Linked DNA regions of Homo sapiens. Changing the gene in region 4 together with the main gene of any one other region gives a genetic interaction. Each region holds a gene or a part of one and is shown on either strand. Other genes may lie near its edges.

Region 1 (4,222 bases), about 69 Mb from region 4:
AAAGCAGATTTTATTCTAAGCATGATGGGAAGCCACCACAAATTTTAAGCAGAGCAATGACAGGGCCTAAGTTATGTTTCTAATGACTACCTGCAGGACTGTGTGAATCACACTGGAGGAGGGCTGGAGTGAACTAAGCCTAATGGAGAGGCTACTGAAGTAGTGGCTTAGCCTAGGGTGATGACTGTAGAAACAGAAATAGATGGACTCATGTTATATTTTGGAAATGGAACCTGTAAGAAATGGCGATAGATTAAATGTGGGATGACGGAGAAACTGAGGGTGACTCTTGTGTTTCTGGCTTGAGTAAATGAACTGATGATAGCACTATTTACTAAGATTACTGAGGTTCTTAGCTTTCCCCCCACAGGATATGGCAATAACAACACTAAATATCATAAGTACAATGAGAACAGGACCTATATACCACATAAGTATATATATGTGTATATGTGATGAAACAGTATTTAATCACTTACAGTTCAGCACAGCTGAATTATAAGCCATACCTCCATTTTCAAGTTGGCTTTCAGTTTCAATCCTCCCAAAACATTCAATGGAGACTCTTCATTGCCTAATAAAATTCAAGCCATTTAGTACAGTTTAAGAATTTGCTTGCAAAATACATCTGGGGTCAAAAAGTAATGGAATGTGGTTATCTGACATGCTGTTGCACCTTCCTTTTCTGGTTTATTTTGCTGTCAGTAGAAAATGATCAAAAGGAATATGTTGTATAAAAGAATCTGGATGAAAGGCAGGGATTATTTGCTCATTTTGGGTGAGTGAAATTCTTATTTGCACAGTAAGATAACTGCCCAGAAAGAATGACAAAAGTATTATCTGTGGAGACATCTTCATTTCCAAGTATTTTTCTGCAGTGATCTCCATCAAGTTTGTCCTTAAAAATATTCTGAGTCACTAAGGTCTATTCTCAGTAAAGGTGATTTATTAACAGATTCACTTTACTTGCTTCACACTGAACACAGAAAAATTGAACACAAAGTTAAACTGTGAGGTAGACAAAAAGAAAAAATTTTCTCAGGTGCAGAGATTCAGTTCTACTCTGGTCTTGCCTCTTATATCCTTCTTTAGATTGTGTAGAAGCTTCTGTGGAAACCCTTCTATTTTCACTTCTTCAGGAAAAAAGGAGGAATGAGTAATTGTAGCAATGATTGAGTCATAAAAACTTCTGGAGCATTCAATTTACTCCAGGCTAAATTCAACAGAAACTTGTAAAGTTACTTGTTTCAACCCTTGGAGCATTTCTTAAAGTCTCCTAAGTCTCTATAATGAACAAGACTAAATCTATTAGCCTCAGCTTCCTGAGACTGGGTTAGATGATGGCTAAGGTCTATTTCAGTTAAAAGTCCAGGATGCTACAATTTATATAGCCAGAGTGGAAAAGAATTCCTCTGTCCCTTCAAGTCCAGCCCATGAGGACCCTTTTGTTCCTACAGCATCCTGTGCTTAATCCCAGTCTATGCAATTGTCATGCTTTAAAGTGTCACTGTCCACTTTTCTCCAATCTGGACTGGTATAAAGTATCTGAAGTTGGACGGTATAAGGCATGACTGAGATAATATCTTTGAAAGTTATTAACTATTTCTAAAAGACCAGCACTGTCCAAAATCTGTCAGCAGGGAAAAATGTTTCTTTTCACTTTCAAATATATTCTAAACTAGAAACTCATTTCACCTGAAAAATAAGCTCAGTTAAAAATAACATGCTCCTTTGATTCAAAGGAACTAACAGACTGAACAAACAAATACTGCAAACCTATGATCAGATGAGGGTTGGAATCGTGTTTGCCTTTGTATTATCATCCCGTCTTATTATCCCCATTTTATACAACAAGAAATGGAGGCTCAGAAACTGATTTTTCCTCTAAAAGTCACCCGAGGACCATGAATGCTATTTAAATTTTCTGACCCTATTTCCTCGTTTGTAAAATGAGGGTGGTAAAAAAAAAATGTATTGCTTTCATTGGGTTGTGGTAGGGTATTCTTCTTTTTGATTGACAAAAAACCTGTAGGTCAAAAAGGTTTAGTAAGTTGCAGCAGTCATGTAAATAACATGTGGACTTCCCATGCCTCAGCCTCCTGCTTTTTCTCTCCCCACACATGAGAAATGGGCCAAAGGCTTTAAACTTTTAAACACAAGTAGCTTTTAGAGAAGTTTGACCTTCAAGTTTGATGAGAGTTATTTTGCAACATTATGATATGAGAAAAAAATTTATAGATATTTTATCTTTCTGGAACCAAAACCATCTTTTGGAAGACTGTCCTAAATGCACTCTGTTGTACAATCATCCTTGTAAATATTAAAATTTGCAATTAGGTACAGATTCTCACCTATGTCACACACATTTTCTTCAGAAGACACAGTAACCATTATGTCTCCTTCCTCAGGGAATGATTTCCTTGTGCTGTTATCATCTCCTGTTTTCTCAGCAGATGCTTGATCAGTCCATTTGCCACTATAATCATTCTTTATAGTCAAGTCCTGCTCACATTTAGGAGCCAACAGAGCTACACTGTAAGTAGCTGGAGGGATCATTGTGTGGGAAGGAGCAATTTTTGATTCTTGGCCAGTAATACATTTGGTGGTACTGGTTTTCAAGTTGTCTTCAGACCCCTGCTGCTCAGCAGGAAGAAAGGAATGCTCAGCCACGGTCCCTTGAACAGGTGGCATGTCATCAGCTTTTATAGCACCGGTGTTTACTGCTGCCAAATAGCGAATGCTGACAGAGGGATCCTTAGCCGTCTGCCCAGACGTCTGTTCTGGTCCTCTCAGGTGGGCAGGTGAGTTAGCATTCCCCTCTAAGCCCCTTCCTGCTGAATAACTTGCTGTGCTACTGCCCCCTGCTGTCCCTGTCTCTGGGCTCTTATCTTCTTTCTGAAGGGAGTTCAACAATACATTCTTCTCTTCTGCATTTATGAGGTGTAAAGTGCTCTCTTTCTGTCCTCTTCCTGCAAATGGTCCTATTTCGGGGCACTCCTTGCCATGCTTCTCTTCTTTTTCCGCACAAACAGCACTTGGATGGCCTTGCCCTGCAGAGGGCTTGTGGACTGATGGCCCGTTGTGCCCCTCCTCGGTGCTCACTGCCAACACGGGACCCGGTTCTTTGCCTCCCCTGACTGGCCCAGGACACCGACAGTTATTCTCAGCAATTAGGCTGGGCATGGGGACCTTGTGCTTGCTCACTTCTGTGGCTGACAGGTCACCGTTCCCTTCTGGGTTGTCTGCAGTCAGCTGATTCTCTTCATGTCTGTCAATGCTGGCGGAAATTGGCATACATTCTGCTGTGCTGGTGGAGATGATGGCAGCATCGCTCAAGTCTTCTACTCTTGTGATGGTGAGCCGATCTTCATCCTGGAGGACAGCACCAATCATGACTGCTTCACACCCTTCAGAGGTGCTTGTGGAAATCATGGCGGTGTCACCCATCTCTTCCGCTGGTGTGACTGAGGGGTCGCCTTCCTCTTGAGGGACAGCACTGGACACTGGGCCCTCACAGTCTTCCACCGAGCTCGTAGAGATGATGCCACTCCCGTCTTTTTCTTCCATGACTGTGCCAGCTCGCTCATTTTCACTTTCAACAACTACACCGGAAACAGAAGCCTCACATTCTTCTGCTATGCTAGTGGAAATGAGAGCACATTCATCCTTCTCCTCCTTGCTGGTTGAGGCAAGAGGACTTTCAGCTTCTGGGGGCGCACTGGGCATAGGCCCCTCAAAGTCGGCGGTGCTTATCAAGACTGGACCTGTAGCCCTTTCTTCCACTGCTGCAGCAACCGGCTGAAGACTTTCAGCACACTTGATGGTTGTTGCACTGGAGATAGGCAATTCGAATTCTTCCCCTATGCTTGTGGAAATCATGGCACACTCATCTTTCTCTTCACTTCTGCTGGCAGTGAGTTGGCTGTCATCTCCTGAGACTGCACTGGGCATGGGGGCCTCAAATTCTTCTGTGGTTACTCTGGTACCTTCCATATTTTCTTCAGTTCTCAGAGCATCTGAGAGACCTCCTTCCACATCTGTAATTGCGCTTACCTGAGGGGTGTAATCATTTGTGGTACTGGTGGAAATAATCAAAACTTTGCCTTGATTTTTACCCCCTGCTAAGCTATTCTGGTTGGTAATATCACCACTGGCTGTAGTTGCCATGAGACCATCACACTCTTCATTTTCTACAGAGGTGATGATGTCCTCATCTTCTTTT
Region 2 (4,222 bases), on a different chromosome or scaffold from region 4:
ATTTGGGATGTTTCAGAATAAAAGGAATCTCATTGGGGTTAAAAATTATCCAAGCAGAGAAGAAGGCAGAAGCCAAGATTATGTAGGCCTTGTAGACTATACAAGCAATTAAGGTTGTATTCTTTTGGGATGGACTCCAGTGGAGGATCTTAAATGGAAAAGTGACATTACTACTTTTATGAACGAGCACTCTAACTTTTCTTCTAGATGGAGGATAAAGTAGGGATACAAGAATGGAAGCAGTGAAACCATTTAGAAGGTCATTTCTTTGGACCACGTAAGAGATACATGATGGCATGAATTAGGGTGATAGCACTGAAGAGAGAGAGGGAGAAGTTGACAAGTCTTAGGTATCTTTTAGTGACAGAGCCAGCAAGACTTGCTGATGGATTTGACATGAAGGATGAGAGAGAGAACCCCTAAATTTTTCACCTGAACAAATTACGATGCCATTTACTGGAATGGAGAAGATTGAAGGAGAAACAGGGTTGCTTAAAGTGATAGGGAAGGTGGGTGAAATCCAGATTCTGTTTCACCATCTTAAATTTAAGATGCCTATTAGAGTCAAGTGAGGATATCGAGTAAATAAATGTTGGACACATGAGCTTACATCTCAGTAAGTCAGAGATTCAACAGAGGAATATTTGAAGGTCTATAGAGGTTGAACTGCTTTCTAAGAGGTTAAAATAATAAGTTTAAGATATTAGATTAATATGTCAAGATCTTTTTCAGGGTTTCAGGATTCATTTTGTACCATGTAGTATATAGCCTTTGCAGGTTGTGCTAGGCCAAACAATGTACTGATTGCCTCCCCTCAAAAAAAAAAGTATATGTTCTAATTTGTCCCCATGGCATGGACTCAGAAGATAGTACTGTGGTGAAATTCAACTGTCAAAGTAATTAGATTCTCAGGATGCTTTTTTAGTTCTTCATAAGTGCAGTATAAAGTTCTAACTTCTTGCTCTCTTTCAATGCCCCACATATTCTGGACCCATTCTACCAATTCAGCAAGTACCCACCATTCCAAATGGACACAACTCCTCACTCCCCATGGTATGCAGTACTCATTCTTTTTTCCCAAGCTCCTGTTTTCCCTCTGCCTTGCTCCTCCCTAGCCATTTGCTTTAAGGCCCGGAGATGAATTCTAGGCCTTTGAATTCTCTTAACTCTCCTGTAGCATGAACTGATACTTCTTTTCTCTAAATTCCTAGCCTATATGATATGTACTGCTTGTTTTAATACTCAACATCAATACATTGCCTTAAAGTGTTATCCAGTACATACATTTTGTTTTCTTTAAAGTACAAGCTTTTGAAGGCAAATGACCCTGTTTATTATTCCTTTGTATTCTTGTGTGCCAGCATGCTGTTGAACAGATAGATAACTTATTCAGCAGATTATTTTTCTTTTAACTATTTGAATGGAACTGTTTTCATTGTATCTATAATGACGGGCAATTTTTTTCTTAGGTTTTCCAAGACCTTCCAAACACATTGGATGAAATTGATGCTTTATTAACTGAAGAAAGATCAAGAGCTTCCTGCTTCACGGGACTGAATCCTACAGTATGCCTGTTTCTCTATTCCCATTCTGCATCCAACCACCACCACCACCCTCCCCATACACACACATACACACACAGAGTTCCCTCCAGTACTTGCCTCCCACTCTGTACTAGAGCTCTTGGTAATAATAAGCTAGACAGCAGGAACAATGTACTTTAAATGCCAGATTCTGAATCTATTAGAATTTTAAATAGATTCTTCCTAAGGAACACAATGTTCTGTGCCTTTTCTTTATAAAAAGAATAGTTGGGCTAACCTGAAATACTGCAATGTCTATTTTTTCAAGGATAAAAAATGTCACTTTCAGTATGTAATAAGAGCATATATTATTTGCATACAAACAATGCAGCACAATTGGCATTTTCATTTAATGTTTTAATCAATGCAAAATTGTATATAGTTTTATCCTTTGGTAGATTTATCTTAAAGAAGTTTTTTTTTCCCCTGCCAGATTGTTCAGGAATATACAAAAAGAGAAGAAGAAATAGAACAGTTAACTGAGGAACTAAAGGGAAAGAAAGTTGAACTAGATCAATACAGGGAAAACATTTCACAGGTAATTTTTTAGTTTTTAATCTTTTTATCATGTGATTATTAATGAAATGGGAATGTAGAATAATGGAAAATGAGATGACATGCTTCTAAGAGAAGTGTGTTATGCCCAGACTGATACTGATATAAAATTTACATAAAATTGTGTGTCAGAATATAGTAATACTGCTTTTAAATTGTGTTTTTATATTGCCTTTATTTGTAGGTAAAAGAAAGGTGGCTTAATCCTTTAAAAGAGCTGGTAGAAAAAATTAATGAAAAATTCAGCAATTTTTTTAGTTCCATGCAGTGTGCTGGTGAAGTTGATCTCCATACAGAAAATGAGGTAAAATTGCATTTGAAATAAATAATATTTCTGGCAAATAATTTTAATTATATGCTTAAAGTACATATAAATTATTTATTTACTTTTGAGTTATATCTGTGAAAAGTTTTGTTTACCAAAATGTTGAAAGAAAGGAGAAAACCACCTGTGGGATTCCATTAGGGTCACTTTTTTTGGGGGGGGTTATGTTTGGAATTAGTGACTAATACCTTGTAACTCTTTTTATACATCTGAGTAATGGTTATTCAGTTGTATTGAATAAATACGTTATAAAGCTACCACAGCTGGAGTTAGAAGACTCAAACAGATTAGTTTGAAATATAGTGTATATCAGTGTCTTTTTTTTTTTAATAAAGAATTTAAGAATTCATGGTCAGGTGTGGTGGCTCACGCCTGTAATCTCAGCACTTTGTGAGGCTGAGGCAGGCAGATAGCTTGAGCTCACGGGTTTGAGACCAGCCTGGGCAACATGGCAAAATCGCATCTCTGTAAAAATACAAAAATTAGCTGGGTGCGGTGGTATGTACCTGTGGTCCCAGCTACTCTGGAGGCTGAGGTGCAAGGATGACTTGAGCCTGGAAGGTGGAGGTTCCAGTGAGCCAAAATGGTGCCACTGCACTCCAGCCTGGGCAACAAAACCAGACCTTGTCTCAAAAAAAAAAAAGAATTTAAGAATTTATAAGAATGGAAATAGTGGGAAATTTGCTACTAATTTCTTGTGCTGTAAGTTTATGCATTGCAATTTGGGCTAAAATTAATTTTTCTTTAAGACAGGCAAAGGCCAGGTGCTGTGGCTTATGCCTAATCCCACTTTGGGAGGCCAAGGCAGGAGGATCACTTGAATTCAGGAGTTTGAGACCAGCCCGGGCAACAGAGTGGGACAGAGACTCTGTCTCAAAAAAAAAGTAACTACTAGAAAATTGAAAATTACATATGTGGGTTGTATTATATCTTTCTCTTGCTCAGTACTATCTTAGACCTTAAAGCTCTATTCAATTAATAGATAACCTTTAATTAGTAAGTTTCATGTTTTTCGTTTTGGTTTTTTGAGACAAAGTCTCACTCTCACCCAGGCTGGAGCGCAGTGGCGCAATCTTGGCTCACTGCAACCTCCACCTCCTGAGTTCAAGCTATTCTTCGGCTTCAGACTCCCAAGTAGCTGGGATTACAGATGCCTGCCACCATGCCCGGCTAATTTTTGTATTTTTAGTAGAGATGGGATTTCCCCATGTTGGCCAGGCTGGTCTCAAACTCCTGACCTGAAGTGATCCACCCCCCTCGGCCTCCCAAATTGCTGGGATTACAGGCATGAGCCACCACACCCGGCCTAATTAGTAAGTTATGTATCTCATTTTTAAGGTAAATCTGAACCTGACATAGAAGTGCCATCAATAAGAATAGTAAACCTTAGAGCATCCTCAGTTTTGGCAACATTTATAAAACACTAATGTACTCATTACAACAAATATTTATTGAGCACCTATTACGTGCCAGGCTTGCTTTTTGCTGAGTATTGTGTGTATGTATGACTTAAGTTTTCAAAGTATATGTGTAATTCCTACCTTGTTTTTTTCCTTCTTAACCGACTGAAGAAGTTAGGGGGATTCTTGGCCCTCTGCAGTTACCATACACAACCACTTCTCTAGCACAAGAGAGCATGACACTCCATTATGTTCTAATTGCTTTCACCTACAGTTTAAGAACCTAGCATTTTGGAACTAGAATAGATAGTGCTTTTTGAGGACAGAGTTCCTCGCTCAGTAATTTCTAAAAACTCTTG
Region 3 (4,222 bases), on a different chromosome or scaffold from region 4:
CAGAGATAAGGACTTTTTTTTTCTCTCTCTATTTAGGAAGTTTGCATCTGTTACTGACAGTGCTCAAATTGTTCTGGGTATATAGGATAAAGTTGAGCTAGCAAAAAAGGTAACATTAAGTTTTTGGATAGGCATAAAACCTCTACATTATCTTTGTGGAAGATCTTAATGGGACTGAAGTATGGATTAAAATAAGTTAATGAAGTGTTGTAATTGCAGTGTGACCCTTAATGTTTAACTTTTAAGCTTTATTTTTTGTTTATTTTTTAACCTTTGAAATTTCCCTTCTCTATAGCAAAGTTTGTGGGCTCTGTCCAGCTTGTCAAATTTTGAGTTGTGAATTCTCTGAAAAAGATACCACTGAATTGATTTGTTATTGATACAGGCCATACCCTTTAATTTGTGGCTAAAATGGTTGAAGATGGTAATAACGATATGTAGCAAGTACTTCTAAACTATCCATATTATTCCATTTAATCTCAGCAACCTCAGGGTAGGTTCTTGTGTTCAAGGTTAAATAATTTGGGCAGAGTGTCCTGCAAGGATGATGTGTGTGAAAGGCCATTTTATTGAGGTGGAGCAATCTGATTGTTTCATCCTGGAATGGTAAATTAACAAACAGTTCCCAGAAACCATCTAGGAGTTCTTTTGTTTGGGCCGTGCCATAAAAGCACATAGAATATATTACTTAAAATAATCTTAGAAGTCTACTTTATCCCTTTTACAAACCAAAAGAGCTTTCTGTGTGTGGAGCCATTGAATGCAATACTGAAATTAAGTTCTTTGATTTATAACAGGGCCTTTTTTATGTAAGTTAGTACAAAGTGAAGATAAAACATTTACCAAAAGTTTTGAATCAAAAAAGAACAGTGCTTTATTGGAGAGAAAAAAAATTGGCCTGGCATGGTGGCTCATGCCTGTAATCACAGCACATTGGGAGGCTAAGGTGGGCGGATCACTTGAGGTCAGAAGTTCGAGACCAGCCCGGCCAACACGGTGAAACCCTGTGTCTACTAAAAATACAAAAATTAGCCAGGCGTAGTGACTCATGCCCGTAGTCCCAGCACTCTGGAGGCTGAGACAGGAGAATTGTTTGAATCTGGGAGGCAGAGGTTATAGTGAGCCGAGATTGTGCCACTGCACTCCAGCGTGGGTGACAGAGCGAGACTCTGTCTCAAACAAACAAAAAAAAAGAAAAGAAAAATTGACATGCTAAAGTGTTTTTCTTTGAAATTTCAGATTTTTTTCTAATAAGCACACGATTTATTATTTTCATTTATTTTAAAAGTATTTACTGTGTGCTAGGTAGGAAGGAATATGAAGAGAGTAAGAACATGGTCACTTTCATCCAAATAATAGTCTAGTGGGTATGATAGACGTGTATGTAGCAAATATGTTACGAAAAAAGTAATAATGTTCTTATTATATACATGGAGTGATTTCTCTGAGGAGAATATGGAAATATTAGGAAAGAAAATACCATTTGTATAGAACTTAGAGGAGGAAATTCATATCCTTTCCTATCTATATGTGTGGTTATTGTTTTAAGAGTGACCTTTTGAGGCCTTATATATTCAGCTTCTGTGATGTAATAGTAACATTTGCAATTTTAGCTGACACTTTTGGTATTATTCTTTCTTTAAAAACTTGGTGCCGGGCATGGTGGCTCATGCCTGTAATCCCAGCATTTTGGGAGGCTGAGGCGGGCAGATCACCTGAGGTCAGGAGTTCGAGACCAGCCTGACCAACATGGCAAAACTAAAAATACAAAAACTAGCTGGTTGTGGTGGCAGGCACCTGTAATCTCACCTCCCTAGAGACTGAGGCATGAGAATTGCTTGAACCTGGGAGGCGGAGGTTGCAGTGAGCCGAGATCGCACCACTGCACTCCAGCCTGGGTGACAGAGTGAGTGAGACTCCGTCTCAAAAAGAAAAAAGAAAAAAACGTGGTTACAGCCTCTTTTTTTTTTTTTTTTCCATTTTATATACGGTCCAGTGAAATTTTTTTTTTCTTTTTTTTTCTTTTTCATGCAGCTTCTTAGGGGACACAAAATTTGCTGCTTAATCAGCACACACAGGAAGAAGGGGTTAAATGAAGGTTCTTGCATCCCAAGGATGAATCTTATTGTGTATATTTCAGCCAAGACCTGTGGAGTAACACCATAAGGTTCTGAGCTCTAAGAGTGGGATAATTTTTTACAGTGGAAAGTGGCCAGGAATCATAGCATTATTATGCTTTATCTGGGAGGAAGAACACTGTTCAGATTTTCTCTTAATTAAAGCAATACTTAATTAGACTTATGTTAATTTGGACCATTAGCAAGGGTTGACATTTAAGGTTAAATGACCGTTTACCAAAAGTTATTACTGAAATCAAAATACTTAGGCAAAAATATTCCTTCTAAATTTCCTATAAGTAAACTTACTGTGAATTTACTTTTATGTTTGAAAATAAGTTATGTAGATCATATAGATTTATAATATGAATTATAATTTAAATATTTTTCCTGTAGGCCTAAAGATATTGGAAGACCTAAGGCTGAAGTTGCTGCAGAATTTCTAAATGACAGAGTTCCTAATTGCAATGTAGTTCCGTATCCTTTTGACAAAAAGAAAATTACTTAATTTTTAAAAGCTTTTTTCCTTTATTATAAGAGATATTTAACAGAGAATACAGATAAGCAAGAGGGAAAAAAAGTCAGCAGTAGTAACTTTATTACTGAGATAACTGCTGGTAACATTTTGCTATCTATTCTTCCAGTCTTTTCTGTATGGTTATATAAATATTTTTTGGGCCCTGATTTTTAACTTAAGTTTATAAAGCCTGTTTCATCATCTACTTTATTTTGCATTATTGCCCTTAATTTCAGTATCAATTACATATCTCCTTTACTAGAGTGTAAATTCCTAGGCTGGATCCAATTAATCTTTGTTTCTTTATAGTAGCAGACAGAGTAGACAGTCAATATAGTATTAGCCAAATGGAAGGTACATCACAGTAAATTTATTTTTACAAGAAATATGTTTTTAAAAAGGAGTATTTACACTGTAGTTTGAATTTAGATCTGGAGAACTTTTGGCATTTTATAGAAAGTCAGAAGATGTGATTTCTATGTAGAAAGTCCCACAGAATACAAAATCAACATACCGGTGAACTTGTGAAAGTTAATGTAAAATACAATGCCATTTACAACTGCTTAGAAAGAAAAATAAATACTTAGATGTAAACTACAAGATAAGTAAGAGATTTATATAGTGAAAAACTACAAAATGCTGATGAAAGAAACCAAAGAAAATCTAAATAAATGGAGAGATAGTCCATCTTCAAAGATTGGAAGATTAAATATAGTAAAGATGTCATTTCTCCCTAAATTTGTATACATATATACCATAGTTTCTATTAAAATCCCAGCAAAATTGTCGATATAGACGATCTTCTAAAATTTTATATAGAAAAGCAAAGGAATACCTACTACAAATCTGAAAAAGAAAGTGGGAGGAATCACTATCCAAATTCTAGACTTATATAGCTATAGTAATCCAGACTCAGTGGCGTTACCAGAGGGATATATAGATGACTAGAACAGAATAGGGAAGCCAGAAATAGCCCCATATAAGTATGGCCAATTTGTTTTTGATAAAGGTGCAAAACAGTTCCAATGGAAGAAGCATAGTCTTCAACAAATCGTACTGGAGCAATTTCATATCCATAGTTAAAAGATGAATTTTGACCTAAACATACAAAATTAACTCAAAATGGATTATAGGTGTAAATATAAAATATAAAATGAGCCAGGCGTGGTGGCTCATGCCTGTAATCCCAGCACTTTGGGAGGCCGAGGTGGGTGGATCACTTGAGGTCAGGAGTTCGAGACCAGCCTGGCCAACATGGTGAAACCCCGTCTCTACTAAGAATACAAAAATTAGCCGGGCACAGTGGCTCCCAGCTACTCAGGAGGCTGAGGTGGGAGAATCGCTTGACCCTAGGAGGCTGAGGTTGCAGTGAGCTGAAATTGCGCTACTGCACCCCAGCCTGGGCGACAGAGCAAGGCTCCATCTCAAAAAAACAAAAAAAAACACAAAAAACCATAAAACGATAGAACTTTAGGGTTTGGTGGAGAGTGCTTAGGCCACGTCAAAAGCAAGACCTGTAAAAGGTGGGGTATGGTGGTGCAGATCACTGAGGAAGCAGTGAGCTTTTATCATACCACTACAGAGTCCT
Region 4 (4,222 bases):
GATAGATTTCTTTGGCTGTGCTATCAGGCAAGTTAGGAAGATGTGTGCAAAAATCAGTCAGCAACTGCCGCGAGATCACGAGACTGACATTCTCATTTACCACTTGTTTAAAAAAAAAAAAAAGATAAGAAAACATGAGCTGATAAATTGTCATTAAACAATCAACCTTTACTTAAAATTAATACTAACAACAATCTATATTAGTACAGCCTTCAATGCATTATTCAAGGATTTCCATACCCCTATCATTTTATATTACATCATCAGTTTTCCTTATGCTGAAATACTTGATTACACAATGACCACACAAAAACAGTAAAAATAGGCCAGTGCGATGGCTCACGCCTGTAATCTCAGCACTTTGGGAGGCCGAGGCAGGCAGATCACGACGTCAGGAGTTCGAGACCAGCCTGACCAACGTGGTGAAACGCTGTCTCTACTAAAAATACAAAAAAAAAATTAGTCAGGCATGGTGGTGGGCACCTGTAGTCCCAGCTACTCAGGAGGCTAAGGCAAGAGAATCGCTTGAACCTGGGAGGCTGGGGTTGCAGTGAGCCGAGATCACAGCACCGTACTCCAGCCTGGGCAACAGAGCTAGACTCTGTCTCAAAATTAATTAATTCATTAATTAATTAAAAAATCTTAAAAAACAGTAAAAATAACACAACTTTTCTAAGAAACAGAAATAATTGAAAAAAGTTTTAAAAGTTGATAATTTTATCTCATTTTTCTACAAAGTGAAGGCACAAAAACACCTATATTTTTATTTATGTGCTTATATCCTACCTTGTTCCAAAAAGGAGTTAAAAAAGAAAACAGTAAAATAATTTTCATGAAATTTAAATAAAGCAAGTGCTGCCAGTACAGTTATTGCCACTTATACTTTCCCAATAAAAACAATAAATAAGAACTTCAGTGAGCACTAGATGTATTGACATTATTTATAAACATTTACGAGGTATTATTTTATGTGATTAAGCTCTGGAGCCACACTGCTTCTACCACTACTGATTATATGACTTCAGACAAGAAACTTAACTTCTCTATGCTTCTCTGTGCTTCTGTTTCCTCATGTGTAACATCTATTTCATAAGGTTGTTATGAAGCTTAAATGCAATAATATACACAAAGCACTTTAAACAATACCTGGTACATAGCACTCAACAAATGTTACTATTATAACTATCATTTTAAATGCATCATTCTTGTAAACTATTGCTTAGATAAATTATTCAAGTCTTTTTTATTATTATTATTTTTTTTTTTTGAGACTGAGTCTCGCTCTGTCGCCCAGGCTGGAGTGCAGTGGCACCATCTTGGCTCACTGCAAGCTCCACCTCCCGGGTTCATGCCATTCTCCTGCCTCAGCCTCCTGAGTAGCTGGGACTACAGGCACCCGCCACCACGCCCAGCTGATTTTTTTGTATTTTTAGTAGAGATAGGGTTTCACCGTGTTAGCCAAAATGGTCTTGATCTCCTGACCTCGTGATCCGCCCATCTCGGTCTCCCAAAGTGCTGGGACTACAGGCGTAAGCCATGGCCCCGGCCAATTATTCAAGTCTTAAAGCAGCAGTTAATATGAAAATAAGTGATTCAAAAACTGTTCAGTTGATGTAAATGATTTTAACAGTAGACTGCTTTTCCTGGTGGTTTACTGGATTCAAAGCTTATACAAAGATCAAAAAATATATATATATATGTTTTTTAATTGTTTTTTTGAGACAATCTTACTGCTGCCCAGGCTGGAGCGCAGTGATGCAACCTCAGCTCACTTCAGTCTCGACCACCGGGGCTCAAGCAGTCTTCCCACCTCAGCGTCCCAATAGCTGGGACTACAGGCATGCATCACCACGCCAGGCTAATTTTCGTATTTTTTTGTAGAGACGAGATTTCTCCACATTGCCCAGGCTGGTTTTGAACTCCTGAGCTCAAGTGATCCCTTGGCTGGGTGCCATGACTCATACCTGTAATCGCAAAGTGTTGGGATTACAGGCATGAGCCACCGTGCCCAGCCAAGATCAAAGTTATAAAAAGCATTATTCTTCTGCTACTACAGTGCAAAGTTCTTAATAAACCACTCCTAACAGTTTTTTGGAAACCATTGCTAGTTTATCTCACACCGGAGGCCATGATTTTTTAAGGCAGTAACCTTTTAAGTTTTAAGGCAGTAACTTTTTAAGGCAGTATTTTTTTAAGGCAGTTGTAATTAATTAATCACATATTAATTGGAATTCATTATTGGGTAATACAGGATGTGACTGAGAAAACAGTTTCATTACAAGTGTCATTAGGCATTTAAGTTACCATACAAGCTGGTATTACTCAGGGAAATATAAGCAAGTAAGAGCAGTGTATCAGAAAACCTAGTTTCTGATCTGGGCTCTGCCAGCTAAATGTCCTTGAAAAAAAGTTACTCAATCCTGAGACTTGTCTTACAATATATTATACAGGGATACCTGTACCTATACGTTCTAGTCACAGGTTATTAAAAGGAGCCTATGTGACAGGTAATGTGTGTGAGAACACACTGTAAAGCACTATCAGATATCATTAATGATGTGAACTCACTATAAAATTCCATGTGAACTCACTATAAAATTCCTTAGGATAATGGCCTACAGACATATGCATGTTGCTGCACAGGACATGATTGTATTCTTTTTAATGTGTGCGTAGTATTTTATGGTGTATATGTGGCACATATTTCTATCCAATTTATTGATTCACACATAAGTTAAGTCCATGCCTTCCTTATTGTGAATAGCAATATGGCGAATATACAAGTGCATGTGGGGTTTCTTTTTGTGGAATTTTTAATTTTCTTTTGGATATATACTCAGTAATGGAATTGCTGGTTGAATGGTACTTCTGCTTTAAATTCTTTGAATAATCTCCAAACTGCTTTTCACAGTGGCTGAACTAATTTACATTCTCACCAACAGTGTATAAGCATTTCATTTTCTCTGAAGTCTAACCAGAATTTGTTATTTTTTTACTTTTTAATAGTAGCCATTCTGACTAATATTAGATGGCATCCCACATTGATTTGCATTTCTCTGATGATTAGTGATGTTGAACATTAAGAAAACAACCCCATTAAAACATTGACAAGGGACATAAGCAGACACTTCTCAAAGTACAGTACTGTACTACCCTGTAGTACAGTAATGTACTATAGAGTACATTTTAGGTACATTAGATGTACTACAGAGTACATTTTAAAGAGGAAAAGGAGGCACAGAGAGGTTAAATAATTGACCCAAGATCACACAGCTCATAAAATAGCATACCAGGATTTGAATCCAAACTATTCTCTTTACTATTATGCTATATTGTCCCTTATCAGCTATTATAACAATAAACATACAAAACTTTAATTAGGATTGTAATTCTGAAGATAATTCACTGAAAATTAATCAAGTTGTAAACAGTTTAAATTCTAAAATCAATCAATCTCAATGCATATTTAATATTGATAATTTGATACAAAACAAGGCTTGAGAGAACTTTAAAGTCCTAGCTCAGTAATACAAGGCAAGCATGAAATTTCCATTTCACTTACTTGCTTCCACAAAAGCTTTCAAAGCTTCTAGTTGTTCTGCTCCAGATAACTGAATGGCTTTTTCCAGGATCTGACGATACCTACAACAATACCAAATGAAAATAATGTTCTGAGGGTACTATATTTTCTAATGCAAACTTTGATGTGTATTTATTCATTTCTACATACCTTGGTTTCTTTCATAGTACTATAGTTTGTGGTTTTCTTTATAGTATACCACAGATTTTTTTTTAAGTTTCTAGTCTATCACAAGAGATATTAAATCTATAATTATATAAGGTACCACTTCATCTAGTTTTCAGTATAGTATACCAGAATTTTTTAAGTTTTCAAGCTCATCACAAGAAAGAATGAATCTATAATTCTGTTACTGAATCTAAGGTGTCACTTTTTCTTGAAGGTTTTATTTTTGAATTTAAACTACAAAGTCAATTTCCTTTCAAATGCCTTAAAAGATAAGCTATATTTCCTTCAACTGTGCAATACATAGACACACAAAAACATTATTTGAGGTGACCTGAATCTTTTCCTCTTACAGACGTAATGTATGTAGGGTCACCAGCAATAGGATAATGTTGACCAGGCAACGAAACCAAACATTAAAGACTGAATGTCTTAGTCTGTACAAAATAAACTTCGCCAAGCCAAATGCACTGATAG
Region 5 (4,222 bases), on a different chromosome or scaffold from region 4:
TCCTAACAGATGTGAAATAGTATCTCATTGTGGGTTTTGTTTTGGAAACAAAGTCCTGCTCTGTCACCAAGACTGCAGCGTAGTGACACAATCACGGCTCACTGAAGCCTCAACCTCCCAGGCTCAAGCAATCCTCCTACCTCAGCCTCCTGAGTGGTTGGGACTAAAGGCATGTGCCACAAGGCCTGGCTAATTTTTATTTATGAGTTCCTAAATATGAAATTCACAATTAAATGTTATTTTTCCTCTGCACTGCATATTTTCTCATAATCTGGTGTTCTTCAATTGACTTAAATGTCTTTTACCATTTACAAAGTTTCAGCATCTGAAAAGGCAAACAGCTATCTCTTCTTTTATAGCTTCCAGTTTTCTAATGCTGAAAAGTCTCCCCCACATAAGACTATAGTTTCCTAGTTTTCCTTACAGGATTTTTATTATTGGTATTTTTATAGAGTATGACAGATGGCAAATTTTGTTTTTTTAACCAAAAAAAATTCATGTAGCAGCATGACTTATTAAATCATGCTTTGCCTACTGAACTGAATTACCACAATAGACACATTAAATCCTCATAAATGCCAGACTTTATTTCAGGATTCTCTATTCTGCTTCACTGGTCCATTTTTCTCTTCTTCTATCAATACCATATTGATTAGATCACTATGGCTGTATTCAAGTCTACAATTCCTAGCCCCAAAAGCTATAAAAACTAAAAGTGCTTTTGTATTTTTTTGTAAGTTCGTGGCATGAGGTATTTACAGTCTTCATTTCTTCTACTTGGTATGTATATTGATATATATATTTCTGCAGAAATATTAATGTGTTTTGTTGCAGGATGCAGCTCCTGGCCTGCGATTAGATTATTGTATGTAATGCACATTATATGCACTGTATTGCCTTTCTGAAATCCAAATAATTTTAAATACCAAAACACATGTGGCCCCAAGGGATTCTGAAGTGGATTGTGGTCTTTGCCTTTTTTTAAATCCTCGTAACATCCTTGTAAGGTAAGGACTGCTCCCTCTTACAGTTAAGAAAAATTAGGGGCTGGGCGCAGTGGCTCATGACTGTAATCCCAGCACTTTGAGGGGCCGAAGCGGGCAGATCACGAGCTCAGGAGTTCGAGACCAACCTGACCAACATGGTGAAACCCCGGCTCTACTAAAAATACGAAAATTAGCCAGGCATAGGGGCGGGCGCCTGTAATCCCAGCTACTCAGGAGGCTGAGGCAGAAGAATCGCTTGAACCTGGGAGGCGGGGATTGCAGTGAGCTGAGATCGCTCCACTGCTCTCCTGCCTAGGTCATAGAGCAAGACTCCGTCTCAAAAAAAAAAAAAAAAGAAAAAGAAAAATTAGGTAGTCCCAGCACTTTGGGAGGCTAAGGCGGCTGGATCACGCCACTGTGCTCCAGCTGGGACAACAGAGCAAGACCCTGACACACACACACACACACACACACACACACACACACACACGGTTCATCTCTCTCCCTTCTTACAGCCACTGTGCTCCAGCTGGGACAACAGAGCAAGACCCTGACACACACACACACGGTTCATCTCTCTCCCTTCTTACAGCTATTCATCCTTCATATCTGAAGCGTCACTTCCTCACAAAGTCTTCTCTGAGCCCCCAACCTAGGTTAGTTTTATGTTCCCAGGGATTCTGCCCCAACACCCACTACTTTTTCACTGCTTGTTTTTTTTATTTTGGCTACACTGTGAGATCCATGAAAACAAAGAACAAATCTGTATTCACCTCTGCAATCCCAAAAGGTTTGATATAGCACCTAACATAATCCAAAGTGTTAAGTGTTCAATAAACATTCATTGAAAAAAGTAGGCCGGGTGCAGTGGCTCACGCCTGTAATCCCAGCACTTTGGGAGGCTGAGGCTGGGGGATCACCTGAGGTCAGGAGTTTGAGAACAGCCTAACCAACATGGTGAAACCTGTCTCTACTAAAAATACAAAATTAGCCAGGCATGGTGGTGCATGCCTGTAATCCCACCTACTTAGGAGGCTGAGGCAGGAGAATCACTTACAACCTGGGAGGCAGAAGTTGCAGTGGGCTGAGATCGTGCCATTGCACTCCAGACTGGGCAACAAGCATGAAACTCCGTGTCAAAAAAAAAAAGAAAGAAAAAATAAATGACTAGTCCCAAAAGCTATAAAAACTAAAAGTGCTTTTGTATTTTTTTGTAAGTTTGCGGCATGAGGTTTTACAGGTAGTCTGACCCACAGAAAGGCCAGAGGTGTTAGTGACAATACAGAAAAAATATCTGAGCTAGAAGGGGTCTACTTTCTCCCATTTTACAGATGTAAAGATGGAAAGAACCAGAGCATTGCTGGGAACTCGACTAGGTGACAAAGCTAGACCAAGAACCTGGGACTCCTACTCTTAGGTAATGTGTCTATGACAGAGTGGCCTCAGACATTCAGGACACATTAAAGAGTTTACCAACTTGTTAGAATCCTGAAGCCACAGAAAACGGTTTGCAAAGAACGTCTACGTCTCCTTCTTATTATGTCTCTTGTTTATGTCTATTATAAAGATAATGGCGCCGGGCGTGGTGGCTCACGCCTGTAATCTCAGCTACTCAGGAGGCTGAGCACAATAATTGCTTGAACCCAAGAGGCAGACATTGCAGTGAGCCAAGATCGCACCATTGCACTCCAGCCTGGATAAAAAGAGCGGGACTCCGTCTCAAAAAAAAAAAAGGCTGGGCATGGTGGCTCACACCTGTAATCCCAGCACTTCGGGAGGCCAAGGCAGGCAGATCACCTGAGGTTGGGAGTTCAAGACCAGCCTGGCCAACATGGTGAAACCCCATCTCTACTAAAAATACAAATATTATCCAGGCGTGGTGGTGCATGCCTGTAATCCCAGCTACTCAGGAGGCTGAGGCAGGAGAATTGCTTGAACTCGCAAGGCGGAGGTTGTGGTGAGCTGAGATCGTGCCATTGCACTGCAGCCTGGGCAACAGAGTGAAACTCTGTCTCAAAAAAAAAAAAAAAAAAAAATTCCTCATGATATAACAATTTTCAAAAGTATAATTACAACTTTAAGGAATCAGAAAGAAGTTCAAGGTCTCAGAATCAATACTACAAAACAGAAATCCTTAAACTCTGAGTCACAGCATCTGGGAAGACATGCCTCTGAGTATTTCTAAATTTATTTCTTTTTTTTTTTTTTTTTTTTTTGAGACGGAGTCTCACTGTTGCCCAGGCTGGAGTGCAATGGCGCGATCTCGGCTCACTGCAAGCTCCGCCCCCCGGGGTTCACGCCATTCTCCTGCCTCAGCCTCCAGAGTAGCCGGGACTACAGGCGCCCGCCACCTCGCCTGGCTAATTTTTTGTGTTTTTAGTAGAGACGGGGTTTCACCGTGTTAGCCAGCATGGTCTCGATCTCCTGACCTCGTGATCCGCCAGCCTCGGCCTCCCAAAGTGCTGGGATTACAGGCGTGAGCCACCGCGCCCGGCCTTCTAAATTTATTTCTAAGCATCAGTTTCTAATATTTGCCCAGTCTCATCTCCTAGGTTATTAGTTAAAACCTCCTCAGGCCGGGTGCAGTGGCTCACACCTGTACTCCCAGCGCTTTAGGAGGCCGAGGTGGGTGGATCACTTGAGGTCAGGGGTTCGAGACCAGCCTGGCCAACATGGTGAAACCTCATCTCTACTAAAAATACAAAAATTAGCCAGGCATGGTGGCGCCTGCCTGTAATCCCAGCTACTTGGGAGGCTGAGGCACAAGAATCACTTAAACCCAGGAGGCGGAGGTTGCAGTGAGCCTAGATTATGCCACTGCACTCCAGCCTGCGCAACAGAATGAGACTCCATTTCAAAAAATAAAATAAAATAAAATAAATAAAAGTAAAAATAAAACCTCCTGGCCAGGCACAGTGGCTTATACCTGTAATCCCAGCACTTTGGGAGGCCGAGGCGGGTGGATCATGAGGTCAGGAGTTCGAGACCAGCCTGGCCAATATGATGAAACCTCGTCTCTATCAAAATACAAAAATTAGCCAGGTGTGGTGGCGGGCGCCTGTAATCCCACTTACTCAGGAGGCTGAGGCAGGAGAATTGCTTGAACCCAGGAGGCGAAAGTTGCAGTGAGCCGACATTGCGCCACTGCGCTTCAGCTTGGGTGACAAAGCAAGACTCTGTCTCAGAAAATAAATAAATAAATAAAACCTCCTCATTGGAAAAGGAACTGAGAGGCA
Region 6 (4,219 bases), on a different chromosome or scaffold from region 4:
AGTATACTTTTCATCCCACAACCATTTACCTGTCTCCCTCCACGATCATCTCGTCTGGGTGGATACCCACCAGGCCCAGCTAGCATCTGGTACTGGTTTGGCTGGAAGGCTGCATTCTGGGTTTGCAGCATCCGGTTCCATGGGAGCAGAGGTTCAGCCCCAACGCCTCTGTAGGAAAGTACCAGTTTTACATCAGAAGCCACACCTATTATACAGCACAAAGCCTAAAATCGGCAGGTATCATCTCCAAATTTTAGTACAATCCAATTTACCTGGATTTATCATATGGGATACAGAGTATCAGAATGGCCTTTGTGTCCCTTATATCCAGTATAATCTAACATGTTTCATGAAGCATCAGCATTTATTACAATGGATGTTTAAACTCAACTGAGAAGTTCTGACTTTTAAAAGTTATTTTGTTCATTTTCAATTGGGAAATTTCCTTTTTAGTCACTTAAAGATGTAGACCCAAGATCACCAAGATGGCTACATTTAAGATGCTATCCAAAGAGTAAACATGTACAAGACAGGAGAATGAGGCTTTATTTTCAAAAATGTCCAGACTCGTTCTTGGATCCATTCTTTCTACTTAATTGCAGGTTGCAAATGAATTCTTACTGCTGAGTATTTTGAATCCAGGGTAGGAGACTTGGCTGTTTTTTCCCATCCATTATTCTGTTCAATATGTCAGAAGGTCTGATTGGGAGGAAACCTTTTCAAGTTCTATTGATGCAGCTTTCAATTGACCACGGTGACCTAGCAACATGAGCACTAATTGGCATGGGCTGACTGGCATTTGGTGTACAGTTTACATGGGAACACAGATTCAACGGCTATTATAACCCAGTTTGCTGTCGCAGATTACTAGTCGAAAGAAATGTTTTAATTGTCTTCAAGTGACTATTTTAACTTTGCAGATGCAAAGCAACAGGTATAATGTACTAAATCATAACTTAATTAAAAACTGTCACATAAACAATGTAGCAAGGATATACCTTCTAAAGGCAATCACCATTTAAGACTTTACTTTCTCCTTAAGGCACTTTCCATAACTTCTATTTTATGGAAGGCACTACAAAGAATAAACAGAGGCAAATGCTCCAGTATACTTGAACATCAGAAGCTTTGGGGCCACTGACCATGTTAGGAGGAATTCAATAAAACTTTAAATTCACTGAAGTGCTGACTAGCTGGTAATCAGTTATAACCATATCAGCATAAGAATTTCACTTCCGAGGTCTTAGGGGAAAAAAGCCCGGCGCTGGGCTCATTGGGTAAAGCATTCTTCTCACAGCTATTCAAGCCTGAATCCATCCTCTCTACCCCCACTCTCCTCCCTTCACTTGGAGCTTGCCTTCTTTTTATTAAAACAACACCAGAGATAATTATTTTTGTGTGATGATTCGAAGAAATGAACTGCTCTCTAAAGAACTCTAGAAAGGCTAAAGTTTTTCTTTACAGTTGGTAGCTGAAACCAGAGCTCTAATAACAATGTGTTATAAGTAATTCAGAATACAATTAAAAATAAGTTTTTATCTCAGAAAGAAAATGCATATGGCTAGGGCTTTTAATTATTTTTCAGGACAATTACTAGCACAAATATATTTTAGCAAGAATGCCTCCATCTGTTTTAGCAAGAAGAGCTCCGTGTGCAGAGATAGGAATGGTCTCTTCCAGTCTCTGCAGGAGTGAAGGGCTAAACTAAGGTTTGTGCTGTAACCAAAGTCTCATCAAAACTGGGCCAATTAATGCAAAACCCACGGGCTAAAAACACAATTCACATCTTAACTGTGATCAGTTTTTCTTTTGAGTCTTACAATAATAAAATTCAATTGAGTTTTAGGAAGATCTGCTGGCATAAATAATATACATTATAAATGCAATTCAAAACTATTTTATGTTCCAAAAACAGGTTAAGAACAAAGCCACAGTTTAAAAACGCAAAGTTCTTTTTGTTTGAATTGATTACTTATAATGTTTTTGACAAATATAATTTTTATGAAAAAAATCATCAATAATTAAAATTAAACAGAAGAACAAAGCAAGGATGTCATGTACTACCTTCTTCTGACTTTTATGACAGAAAGGCCTTTATTTTCAACAAGTTTATCACATGTCTAGACTAATTATATATTTTGCAAATACTTACAAAACTAAAAATTTGCCTAGGAAATTATGTTTTAAAATCTGGGATAGAAGCACAGAAACTGACATATCCTAAATTCTAAAAATTAGCAATTAGGCCAGGCACAGTAACTCAGCCTGTAATCCCGGCACTCCAGGAGGCCGAGGCAGGCAGATCACTTCAGCCCAGGAGTTTGAGACCAGCCTAGGCAACATGGGAAAACCCCGTCTCTACTAAAAATACAAAAATCAGCCAGGCATGGTGGTGTGGGAGCCTGTAGTCCCAGCTACTTGGAAGGCTGAAGCATCAGAATCACTTGAACCTGGATGGCAGAAGCTGCAGTGAGCCAAGATCATGACATTACACTCCAGCCTGGGTGACAGAGTGAGACCTTGTCTCAATCAATAAATCAATAAAAGAAGTTAATAAATAAGGCAACTTATTTGAGCCATTTGGCATCGTAGATAGCAACAATTTTTTTAAGTTTCCAAATTGTTTTGGAAAGTTACTGGAGATGTGAACTACTACCAATTTGAATATTTTAAATGTATGCATATGGTAAAATCGGAGTTTTATTTAAAAGATTTTTCATGATTGAGCTTAACACTCATAGGTAAAAAACTAAATGGCTGCCTTGCAAATGACTGAAAAAGAGGCCTCCATTGACAAGAAGAACCCAAACAATGTGGCAAAACTCAAGTGACAAAGGGAACTCCAATGCTGGGTATCTATTAACTCTAGGCTGTGTCTGTGTTGGGAGGATGTTCCTGTTGTATTTTTAAATCTACTGGATATATGGATTATACATACCATCTTAAAGTAGGAAATTATTCAAGAAATGCAATGTAATAAAAAAAAGACACTCAAAATTCTCTTAATAGGATTCTCAACAAACAGTAGCGTCGTGGAAACATACTGAACTAAGAACTGGTAAAACCTGGTTCTGGAACAAAATGGTATCTTTCTTAAATGTCTGTGATGTAAGACTTTTATGATAGAACTCTATTATGCTCACATTTACCTTTTGCTTTCAGGCATAATTTTAAGTATCTGACTAAAACTAAACCAAAAAACATTCCCACAAAACTTGTCACTAACCTGCTGGGTTCACAAAGTCAGAATAATACTAGTACTTGGCTAGGGTAGAATAAGAACAAAACCTGATGGACAGCAGGGTAAGGGAAGGGACAATGATGATGATCTTAGGAAAACTTTTAATGTGAACAGAGGGGAGGAAAGCTGTTGGGGCCTTAGAAGTGGAAACAGATCCTTTACTTCCTTTGAAGTCCCTACGTCTTTATATTACGCTCAGAGTAAATATTCTGGTAAGTTTTGTTCCAGTGAAAAGTTTCTTGGTAAAGAATGGCACAAAAGAGTGACCTTAGGTAAGCTGCTGAACTTCTCTGTGCCTCACTTTCTTCATTTGCAAAAATGTAAACATAACAGCATCTATTTCAATGCACTGCTAGGAGGAATAAATGAAATCATTCTTATTAAAGGATGTTAACACAGTGTTAACACTTTGTAAGCAGACAAACATTTGCCATTATTATTAGTATGGAAAGTGAGCAATAAGATAGAGAAACCAAGTATATAATTTAGGAAAAATTTACCCCTTACTTACTTAATTTCTGCTTAAAATTTGTGGTACTGAGGAAAATGAAACAGCACATACTGTGTGCTTTCAGAACATATACTAAAATCAAAACATTAATACACACATTGCTAGTCGTATTGCATTTAATGAGACTTGCACTAAGTTGACACTATTAGTAAACATCGAATAACATGATTCCTTTTATCCTCTTGAAGATAACAATGAAATAAAGTTCTGGAGTCTCTAAAGAGTTATAAAGTTTTCTTAAAAGGGAAGCTGCATTTAGAATCCCATTTATAAAAACACTATTCATTTCAGATGTGAACAGATTAGAGACTGTAAACATGGCAGAGGAGAAGAGAATAAAACAGATTAAAACTGGGAAGGCAAAAAAGAAAGCCTTATTATGATGGGGCTTAATTTGTTTTTGCATTTACTGATGTTGGCAAAACCATCATGAAATGATACATCTTAAAGCTGGCCTTTAAAAATTA
Region 7 (4,222 bases), on a different chromosome or scaffold from region 4:
TCACAGTATGTTTAAATAACTTATTATCCAAAGTAATACTACATAATAGCTACATGAAAAACATTTAAAGAAATTCTAAAACTAGTATTTTAAATTTGCTTAAAATAAGTTTAGTCATATATACTATTTAGTTACAAACAGCATATTAAATTCTCAAGATTATATATATTTCTTCACTTAAGATGTTATATTACTTATTCTGTATCTTCCTTTGTAATACTTACTTGAACTTCTTCTATTTCTGGATAAAAAATCCGTTCGCAAATGAGCTGTGCAATTCGATCACCTTTTTTGACTTCAAAGAAAGAATAGTTTATTACTGACGTTACTGACACATTCGCCATATCCTGTCTTATTCAATGAGAATTAAAGGAGTCAATATTAATTTACACATACATGACTCTGAAAATTCACTAAAATTATGTGAATGTATATATTTAACATACCTTCAAACTTTTCTTTGCCAAAATTAAACAGTACAACACCAACATTTCCTCTATAATCTTCATCTATGACACCAGCTAGAGAAAAGAAAAGTAATATTATCTCAATTTTTGCTATTGGAATACTAGAGGTGTAAGATTATCTCAAAATCATTATCATGTAGCTCTGAGATTTGTATTCTTACAATTGAATAAGTGAATCTTGCCCTGGTACTATGTAAAGCCTCAAAACCAAGAAATGACATTACTAAAATACAAATAAAAATTTAGAAAACAGGTCCTAATTTTCCAACCTGTCACTCTTTATCAAATGGCGACCATTTCCTATTTTAAGCTGGCAGTAGCAATGGCCATCTCCAACCTACTGTCTACCCACGGCACACTTGCCAAAAAGACTAGGAGAAAATTACGATTTGGGTTTTAAAGGTTTTTCCTGGTATCAGCTTCCCGCTAATACCCAGATTGAAATACGATTGAGTCATAAATAAAAATGTCAAAAAGCCTAAAGCTCTGCAGTGGAGTAAATCAACGCTGACATTGTTAAGCAGCAGTCTTGCAAATATTAGAATATTCCATTTTTACACTAAAAATGAAGCTGTATTTTTCAGTTCATAATCTTCCTCTCCTTTTAATCTGAACCACCATCCTTTCTTAGAGCATGGTTTCTCAGAAGACTGTAGCACATAGGCTTCATGAGTACAACTTTTTTTGTGTAATTAATACTTGTTTAAGATTATGAACACAGGGGGAGAAGATCTTTGCAGGGGAGACTTGAGCCAGGTCCCTGACATAGCCCAGAGAGTTATACTTACCAGACTTGCTAGCATTTATCTTTGAGCCAATAATTTAAAATATTTCCATAAGCACAAGCACAGATAATACAGGTGCACCGGGCCTTTTCATTTTTTTATATTGATAAATAATTCACAAAGCATACAATTTATCCATTTGAAGTGTTACAATTCCACAGTTCATAGTGTATCAGAGTTGGCCAACTATCGTCACAGTCAATTATAGCACATTTACATTACCCTCCCTCCAAAAATCCCCTACCTTATTAGCAGTCACTCCCCTTCCTCCTCCCACCCCCAATTTCCTGCTATACACGTTAATTCTTTCTCCTCAGTTTGTGAAAGGCTGGATAAGACTCACGTGAATCTAACTGAAGACAGCTCCATGTCACATCTTACTTGTTATTAATACTCTACCCCAAACAAAAGCCCTGATGAAGGAAAAAATATGGAAATAAAAATAATCCTGTGTTCAGCTCAATGGGCAGTAATGCTATTTGCCCATACTCCTCATTATTTGAAAGCTGAGAAAACAGACAAAAAAACCCCAAAGCATACCCACCCCCCATTTTTTAAGAACAAGGGTAATTCCTAAGCATATCCTTTCAATTTTCTCATATAATGGGGGGAAAAAAGCAAACCCTTAGGTCCACCACGGGGAAAAATATTCAGCAAAAACAACATTTTAGATTTTCCGAATGGATTACAACATACGTTTAAATGAACCCCTGTGCTTTATGAATGAATTACTAGGGACAAGTGAATCTGAATTTAAGCACTTCTTAAAAGGTTCCTGATGCAACACTTTTACGAGAAGAGTGAGTATAAAACTGGGCAGAAAAGCAGCAAAGGCAGTTCATCTCCTGTCGGGCCTGAAGGAAACAATCCATTATTGAACTTGACCAATTCCAATACCAAACCCTGCTTTATTTCTCCACCGTCAGTTGACCATTAATTTACACCTTAATATTTATGAAAAAATTTGATATAAAGATGAAACCAGCTGTTTTCCATATTATCTATATGGAAAAAATTTTGACTGCAGGGACAATTTAAATTAGATTTAATGAAGAAATCCCTCAACATAGCATGTTGTTCCATGCTAGAAAAAATGGCCACAGTAGGCTAGAGAACTTCCATGCTGGGAGATTTTGAGGTACAAGCTAATAATTCATCTATCTTGAATGAGTTAGAGAAAGACATGGACTGACTTCTGAACTATTGTTTCTACTTTATTCAAAAATTTTTAAATAACTAAAACAATACAAATACATATAAAGTAAAAGCTTATAATATTCTCTTACCCTCCCTGAGATAGCTAATGTTACAGAAATATATCTTACATACTACTTTATTTTTTTCTTTTTATCCTTTGAGATTAATATATGTAAATGTTAGCCATTCTTTTTAGATACAAGATATGGAAATATGGGTTCTCTCTCTCCTTCTCTTTCTTTTTTTGGCAGGGTCTCACTCTTATAGCCCAGGCAGGAGTATAGTGGTATGATCACAACTCACTATAGCCTCAACCTCAAGTGATTCTCCCACCTCAGCCTCCAGGTACAAAGGCACCACCACACCTGGCTAATTTTTGTATTTCTTGTAGAGAGAAAGTATCCCTATGTTGCTCAAATAAGCCTCAAACTCCTGGGCTCAAGCAATCTGCCTGTCTCAGCCTCCCAAAGTGCTGGGATTACAGGCATGAGCCACAACGCCCAACCTGTACCATTGTTTCTATGTAACTATTCTCTTGCATAATATCAGACACAGGCTGCTTTTACATTTTGCTATAATAAATGAAGCAGCCCTTTAAGTATATCCTTGTATATGAATGCTTTTTATTTTCATCAAATAGGTTGCAAAAAAGGTGTAGCCACTCAAACTTCCATCAGCAATATTTGAGAATGCCCATTTCCAAAATCCTTGCCAATATTTGATGGCAACAATCTCTTACATTCTGGCCAATATGATGAGTACAAAATGGCTATCTCATTGCCTTACTTTTCATTCCCTGATGACTAGTGAGGCTGGATTTTTTTCCTCCCATTTGTTGGACATTTGCATGTCCTTGTCTATATTTTGTGTATGTTTTTTTCTCATTTGTTCTTTTTCATATAAGTTGCAAATATTTGCTTGTTGGCTTTATAGTATCTTCTAACATACAAAAACACTCCCTTTTTGAAAGGCCTCTGCTAACGTATCTGTAAAGCAGTCCTATCAGAACTACTCAAATGATTGGGTGTCTTGAATCCTGCAGATAGGTGATCTTTATGCTTGGGCCACGAAAATGTGAAAAACCTTTAAGTGACTAAAAGAAATTAAGAAGTTTGAAGTCAATTCAAATGTATGGCAGAAAAAAAGGCCCTCAATAGTTTTTTTTTTTGCATGAATGTTGACGGTATAAAAATTTCAGTAGTTCCAAATTCATTTACCACCCAATTGCCATTCGACCTCCAAGAAAAGCCTTCTCTGCCTACAGGATATAAGTATCAGGGATATTTCTCCTCAGAGAAAGCAGAAAGTAACTTGAAGTTATCACTGGAAAAATCATGCATTGGAACTGGCAGAGTGATTAACTGACTTCAGGCAAAAGTTTTACTGTGTCAAGAGTTTGGCATGTCATTTGTTGGAAACCTTTTTTAGTGAAAAACTATCCACACCTACCAGATGTGAATTCTGAACAGAATCCTGAATGCTCAACTTTTCCCTTTGACCCTTATTTAGAGCCTGGGATTTCTAACAACATCTCTCTTCAGAAATAAAAACTGTTGCCAACTATGATAAACTTGTGCCTAAGGGAGATTGTTAAGATTCTCTGCATCCAAGAACACACCACAATGTGATTTTATGAATAACACCATACCAACCACTAGGCAAACTAACTTTCCATTCTTTTACATGAATTTTTTTCCAGAAAGTTGTTTTAAACAGAGCAAAAATTAGTAACAAAGTCGAATAAAAGAAAAAGTTTCCACATAAAAACAATCT

What was found.
Region 1: changes in COPS4 (region 4) and BOD1L1 together harm fitness more than expected from each alone (negative genetic interaction), as found in Homo sapiens cells (one large-scale study listed by BioGRID).
Region 2: changes in COPS4 (region 4) and SMC5 together harm fitness more than expected from each alone (negative genetic interaction), as found in Homo sapiens cells (one large-scale study listed by BioGRID).
Region 3: changes in COPS4 (region 4) and UBA3 together harm fitness less than expected from each alone (positive genetic interaction), as found in Homo sapiens cells (one large-scale study listed by BioGRID).
Region 5: changes in COPS4 (region 4) and NUDC together harm fitness more than expected from each alone (negative genetic interaction), as found in Homo sapiens cells (one large-scale study listed by BioGRID).
Region 6: changes in COPS4 (region 4) and XRN2 together harm fitness more than expected from each alone (negative genetic interaction), as found in Homo sapiens cells (one large-scale study listed by BioGRID).
Region 7: changes in COPS4 (region 4) and DUT together harm fitness more than expected from each alone (negative genetic interaction), as found in Homo sapiens cells (one large-scale study listed by BioGRID).

What each region holds. Positions count from the first base shown.
Region 1 is NC_000004.12:13,596,595-13,600,816, forward strand, and holds part of BOD1L1 (biorientation of chromosomes in cell division protein 1-like 1), read right to left. Parts: coding exon 2,352-4,222; intron 575-2,351; coding exon 510-574; intron 1-509. UniProt on the Homo sapiens protein: Component of the fork protection machinery required to protect stalled/damaged replication forks from uncontrolled DNA2-dependent resection.
Region 2 is NC_000009.12:70,345,597-70,349,818, forward strand, and holds part of SMC5 (structural maintenance of chromosomes protein 5), read left to right. Parts: intron 1-982; coding exon of another isoform or gene 983-1,008; coding exon 1,009-1,053; intron 1,054-1,469; coding exon 1,470-1,565; intron 1,566-2,016; coding exon 2,017-2,121; exon of another isoform or gene 2,122-2,125; intron 2,126-2,322; coding exon 2,323-2,442; intron 2,443-4,222. UniProt on the Homo sapiens protein: Core component of the SMC5-SMC6 complex, a complex involved in repair of DNA double-strand breaks by homologous recombination.
Region 3 is NC_000003.12:69,066,300-69,070,521, reverse strand, and holds part of UBA3 (NEDD8-activating enzyme E1 catalytic subunit), read left to right. Parts: intron 1-2,513; coding exon 2,514-2,594; intron 2,595-4,222. UniProt on the Homo sapiens protein: Catalytic subunit of the dimeric UBA3-NAE1 E1 enzyme. E1 activates NEDD8 by first adenylating its C-terminal glycine residue with ATP, thereafter linking this residue to the side chain of the catalytic cysteine, yielding a NEDD8-UBA3 thioester and free AMP.
Region 4 is NC_000004.12:83,045,046-83,049,267, reverse strand, and holds part of COPS4 (COP9 signalosome complex subunit 4), read right to left. Parts: intron 3,643-4,222; coding exon 3,563-3,642; intron 103-3,562; coding exon 1-102. UniProt on the Homo sapiens protein: Component of the COP9 signalosome complex (CSN), a complex involved in various cellular and developmental processes.
Region 5 is NC_000001.11:26,924,519-26,928,740, reverse strand, and holds part of NUDC (nuclear migration protein nudC), read right to left. Parts: intron 1-4,222. UniProt on the Homo sapiens protein: Plays a role in neurogenesis and neuronal migration. Necessary for correct formation of mitotic spindles and chromosome separation during mitosis. Necessary for cytokinesis and cell proliferation.
Region 6 is NC_000020.11:21,382,817-21,387,035, reverse strand, and holds part of XRN2 (5'-3' exoribonuclease 2), read right to left. Parts: intron 169-4,219; coding exon 30-168; intron 1-29. UniProt on the Homo sapiens protein: Possesses 5'->3' exoribonuclease activity. May promote the termination of transcription by RNA polymerase II.
Region 7 is NC_000015.10:48,337,588-48,341,809, reverse strand, and holds part of DUT (deoxyuridine 5'-triphosphate nucleotidohydrolase, mitochondrial isoform 1 precursor), read right to left. Parts: intron 522-4,222; coding exon 447-521; intron 296-446; coding exon 225-295; intron 1-224. UniProt on the Homo sapiens protein: Catalyzes the cleavage of 2'-deoxyuridine 5'-triphosphate (dUTP) into 2'-deoxyuridine 5'-monophosphate (dUMP) and inorganic pyrophosphate and through its action efficiently prevents uracil misincorporation into DNA and at the same time provides dUMP, the substrate for de novo thymidylate biosynthesis.